2 separate regions of the Homo sapiens genome follow, and region 2 is linked to region 1. A link means that fine-mapping ties the variant in region 1 to the expression of a gene that starts in the linked region. Tissue or cell type: whole blood. Region 1 holds a variant in brackets; the other region holds the start of a gene. All regions are shown on one strand. Distances are between the middles of the regions.

Evidence for each region. PIP is the estimated chance that this variant, and not a neighbour inherited with it, causes the effect.
Region 2: it holds the start of DYNLT2B, and the variant in region 1 is fine-mapped to the expression of DYNLT2B in whole blood (TOPMed, PIP above 0.99).

The regions. Positions count from the first base shown.
Region 1 is chr3:196,265,403-196,267,902 of GRCh38, forward strand. The region is part of intron 2 of PCYT1A (phosphate cytidylyltransferase 1A, choline); the gene reads right to left. Among named protein-coding and RNA genes, the nearest start is that of PCYT1A, 21 kb to the right of the region's middle. The variant C/T (reference allele first, on the strand shown) is at 1,209.
Region 2 is chr3:196,317,059-196,319,798 of GRCh38, forward strand. DYNLT2B (dynein light chain Tctex-type 2B) reads right to left here and starts at 1,182. Exons shown (of 5, transcript NM_152773.5): 1 at 982-1,182. The coding sequence starts at 1,094. The region is part of intron 5 of TM4SF19-DYNLT2B (TM4SF19-DYNLT2B readthrough (NMD candidate)); the gene reads right to left. It overlaps TM4SF19-AS1 (TM4SF19 antisense RNA 1), which reads left to right and starts at 1,274. Exons shown (of 2, transcript NR_046724.1): 1 at 1,274-1,379. LOC107986031 (a long non-coding RNA gene) reads right to left here and starts at 533. Exons shown (of 2, transcript XR_001740547.2): 1 at 1-533. RefSeq lists a silencer at 702-951 and an enhancer at 1,012-1,111.

The sequences.
Region 1 (2,500 bases):
TGTAAATACTTTTGTGATCCTTTTGATTGAACCTTTAGAAACATCTGTATCAATAAATGATTTATACTTATCGACAAAATAGCCATAAAGTTTTTCCTAGTTTTTCCTTCTTAACTCCTTTGTCTCTTTTCTATCCATTTCATCCTGACCCACCAACCCAGGTATCTACTACTTGGTGATCCTTCCTATTCCTTTCTTTACATGCAAGGAAAGTACTTTTTCTAAAGCTAATGAGCTCCACCGGGTGTGGTGGCTCACGCCTGTCATCTCAGCACTTAGGGAGGCAGAGGTGGGCGGATAGCTTGAGCCCAGGGCAACAGAGCAAGTCCCCCTACCCTTTTTTTTTCTTTTTTGAGACGGAGTCTCGCTCTGTCGCCCAAGCTGGAGTGCAGTGGCGCGATCTCAGCTCACTTGCAAACTCCGCCTCCTGGGTTCACGCCATTCTCCTGCTTCAGCCTCCTGAGTAGCTGGGACTACAGGCGCCCACCACTGCGCCCAGCTAATTTTTGTATTTTTAGTAGAGACGAGGTTTCGTCATGTTGGCCAGACTGGTCTCGAACTCCTGACCTCAGGTGATCCGCCCACCTCAGCCTCCCGAAGTGCTGGGATGACAGGCGTGAGCCACTGTGCCTGGCCTGCAAGTGCCCATTAAAAAAAAATAAATAAACTAATGAGCTCTAGGCTATAGAATTCTACTCTATGCTCACATCTCATAAAAGGAAGGTCTTGTTTATCTTTACACGTCTACCACCTACTGCCATACTAGCGCATTGTAAATATGCAATAAAGGCCAGGTGCAGTAGCTCACGCCTGTAATCCCAGCACTTTGGGAGGTCGAGGCGGGCGGATCACGAGGTCAAGAGATCGAGACCATCCTGGCTAACACGGTGAAACCCCGTCTCTACTAAAAAATACAAAAAATTAGCCAGGCTTGGTGGCGGGCGCCTGTAGTCCCAGCCACTCGGGAGGCTGAGGCAGGAAAATGGCGTGAACCCAGGAGGCGGAGCTTGCAGTGAGCCGAGATCAGGCCACTGCACTCCAGCCTGGGCGACAGAGCAAGACTCCATCTCAAAAAAATAAATAAATAAAAATGCAAGAAAATCTTGCTTACTCAACCCAAATGTCAACTGGAGAATGAATAACTAAAAAGTAGTATGTGATATATGATGGAATGTTATTTGTCAATAAAAAAAAAATGAAGTACTGGC[C/T]GGACGTGGTGGCCCACACCTGTAATCCCAGCACTTCGGGAGGTTGAGGTGGGCGGATCACTTGAGGTCAGAAGTTTGAAACCAGCCTGAGCAACATGGTAAAACCCCATCTCTACTAAAAATACAAAAATTAGCCAGGCGTGGTGGCGGCGCATGCCTGTAGTCCCAGTTACTCAGGAGGCTAAGGCAGGAGAATCACTTGAACCTGGGAGGCCGAGATCACACCGCTGCATTCCAGCCTGGGCAACAGAGTGAGACTCTGTCTCAAAAAAAAAAATTGCCGGGCACGGTGGCTCACGCCTATAATCCCAGTACTTTGGGAGGCCGAGGCGGGCGGATTACCTGAGGTCAGGAGATCGAGACCATCCTGGCTAACATGGTGAAACCCCGTCTCTACCAAAAATAAAAATTAAAAAAAATCAGCCGGATGTGGTGGCTGGCGCCTGTAATCCCAGCTACCCGGGAGGGTGAGACAGGAGAATCACTTGAACCCAGGAGGCGGAGGTTGCAGTGAGCCGAGATTGCGCCACTGCACTCCAGCTTGGGCGACAGAGCGAGACTCAGTCTCAAAAAAAAAAAAAAAAAAAATTAAGTACTTGTACATGTTGCAGTACGAATGAATCTTCAAAACAAGCTCAGTGAAAGAAGCCAGCCCCAAAGACCACATACCGTATGATGTCATTTGTATGAATGTCCAGAACAGGCAAATCCACAGAATCAGAAAGCAGATTAGTGGCTTCCAGAGGCTGGAGAGACTGGGGGGAAATGGGGAGTGACTGCTAATGAGTACAGGCCTTCTTTCTGGGGTGATAAAAATATCCCAGGCCAGGCATGGTGGCTCACACCTGTAATCCCACACTGTGGCAGGCTGAGGCAGGAGAATCGCTTGATCCAGGAGACTGAGACCAGTCTGGGTAACATAGTGAGACCCCATCCCTACAAAAACAAATTTAAAAATTAGCCAAGCATGGTGATGTGCACCTATATTCCCAGCTACTTGGGAGGCTGAGGTGAGAGGACTGTTTGAGCCCAGAAAGTTGAGGCTGCAGTGAACTATGATCACACCACTGCACTGCAGCCTGGGTAACAGACCAAGACCCTGTCTCAAAAAAAAAAAGAAAAAAATTCTAAAATTGGTCATGGTGATGGTTGCACAACTCTGTGAATAAACTGAAAACCACTGAATTGTATACTGTAAATGATATGTCAATTATAACTCAATAAAGCTGTTAAAAAAAGAAAAAAGTCTTGCTTGCTTTTGTTATAGAGTTCAAAGGAGATTCAGAGCTAGA
Region 2 (2,740 bases), 52 kb after region 1:
TGTGGTGTGTGTGTGTGTGTGTGTGTGTGTAAAGTTAGTGATCTTACAAACCTGAGTACCCTCTGCTCTGGCCCGTGAGCCTGACATTTTTTTTCAGTGTGTGTGTGTGTGTGTGTGTGTGTGTTGTGTGTGTGTGTGTAAAGTTAGTGATCTTACAAACCTAGCTGAGTACCCTCTGCTCTGGCCCGTGAGCCTGACATTTTTTTTCAGTGTGTGTGTGTGTTGTGTGTGTGTGTGTGTGTAAAGTTAGTGATCTTACAAACCTAGCTGAGTACCCTCTGCTCTGGCCCGTGAGCCTGATATTTTTTTCAGTGTGTGTGTGTGTGTGTGTGTGTGTGTGTGTAAAGTTAGTGATCTCACAAACCTAGCTGAGTACCCTCTGCTCTGGCCCGTGAGCCTGATATTTTTTTCAGTGTGTGTGTGTGTGTGTGTGTGTGTGTGTAAAGTTAGTGATCTCACAAACCTAGCTGAGTACCCTCTGCTCTGGCCCGTGAGCCTTAATCCTAGCGAGGGCTCGCTGCGGTGGTCTAAGGGCCTCCAGATCCCACCCGGGTAGGACTTCGCACAGATGCAGCTCCCGCGCCGGGAGTGAGCCCATCCTGGCACCCGTGTGCACAGTCACCCTCGAATCACGGCTGAACGGCATCCGACGCGAGTGGCTTCCTGCCTCTATTCTACCCATCTCCTTACTCAGGACGCCATCGCGGGTTTCCCAGGGCCAACCATTCCCGCCGCGCCACCCTAAGACGCGCCCGGCGCCCAAACACTGAGGAAGCGGGTGGGGTCCCCTGCGGCCCCTGCAGCGGGAGGGGCGCCCGGACGTCACAGCAGGGCCGCCCGCCCGCCTCGCGGCCTCCCGCCTCCCGCCCCGCGGACCCCGCGCGTCCCCCGCGCTCCTTCCGTGGCCCAGGTCCCAGGCGAGCTCCGCCCCTCAGACCAGCGCGCTCGAGGTCGCCCCGCCACAGCCCGTCCTCTACCCGCCTCTGCTGGAAAACAGGCCGCAGAATATAGGTGTTCTCGGGCTCCCCTGCGTTCTTCTCAGCCTCAGGCACCCCGTCGCCCACCGAGAAGGACACTCCGATGGACGTGGCCATGCCGGGGCTTCTCGGTCCGGGCGTAGCTCGCGATGAAGGCCTAGCGGGTTGCGGTCGCGGCCGGCAGCAGGGAAAGCGTCTCCAGGGCAACAGGGCCGCCCTCCCGCCTCGCTGAAGCCCGCGAGCGCCCCGCACAGCCGCCCTCCCTGCCCGCGCCTGCGCACCGGCTGCTGGGCGGGAACTGGTCGCGTCCGGACGCGCGACAGCTTCCACCCGCCTCAGGCAGTATCAGCCGCGCCGCAGTCGGAGGAAATAGACGCGGGGCCTGAGGCTCCTGGACTTGAGGTATTAGGCTGGTGCAGAAGTAATTGCGGCGGCCGGGTGCGGGGGCTCAGGCCTGCAATCCCAGCACTTTGGGAGGCCGAGGCGGGCGGATCACCTGAGTCAGGAAGAGTTCAAGACCATCCTGGCCGACATGGTGAAACCCCATCTCTACTGAAAATACAAAAATTAGCCGGGCGTGGTGGCGCGTGCCTGTAACCCCAGCTGCTCTGGAGGCTGAGGCAGAATAATCTATTGAACCCAGGAGGCCGAGGTTGCAGTGAGCCGAGATCGCGCCACTGCACTCCAGCCTGGCGACAGAGCGAGACTGCGTCTCAAAAAAAGAAAAAAAAAAAAAAAGGAAGGAAGGAAAGAGACTTAGGCTGCATTCCCCGCTTTTAAAAATATATATTTATTTTTATTTTTTTAAACGAAGTCTCGCTCTGTCACTCAGGCTGGAGTGCAGAGGCGCGATCTCGGCTCACTGCAACCTCCACCTCCCAGGTTCAAGCAATTCTGCCTCAGCCTCCCAAGCAGCAGGGATTACAGGCGCGCCCCACCACGACCGGCTAATTTTTTTTGTATTTTTATTAGAGACGGGGTTTCACCATATTGGCCAGGCTGGTCTCCAACTCCTGACCTCAGGTGATCGCCCACCTCGGTCTCCCGAAGTGCTGGGATGACAGGCGTGAGCCATCGTACTCTGCCGCATTCCCTGCTTATAAGCACCAGTCCCTGGTCCTGTTTTAGAAGGCTGTTGTATCTTGGCCTCTGCTAGCTTCAAAAACTAAGGCCCGATGAGGTAGCTCGTGCCTGTAATCCCTGTTTACAGGAGAGGCTGAAAGGGCAGGGATTCCTTTTTTTTTTTTTCCCACTTGAGACAGGGTCTTGCTCTGTTTCTCAGGCTGGAGTGCAGTGGCACACTCACCGCTCACTTCAGCCTCGACCTCTTGGACTCAAGCAGTCCTCCCACCTCAGCCTCTGGAGTACCTGGAACTACAGGCGAATGCCACCGCGCGTGGCTAATCTTTTTAATTTTTGTAGAGATAGGATCTGGCTATGCTGCCCAGGCTACTATTGAACTCTTGGGCTCAAGTGATTATCCCACCTCAGCCTTCCGAAGTGCTGGGACTACAGGCATGAGCCATCACAGCCAGCTGGGATATTGTTTTTCGAATCGCTGTCATGTTCTGTACTATATGCAGTTCCTGAAAGAATGGAGGCAAGAAGGAGTCAGCTAACCACTGTGAACTGTCTTAGTGCCAAGGACCCACCCTTCTCTCCTTGGGGTCCTGCTGACCCATCAGAATAGGGCTGAGCCAGGATGGGGCTTGTGGAGATGATGTGTATGAGTGTGCATGCACTTGTGTGTGCATGCCTAACAT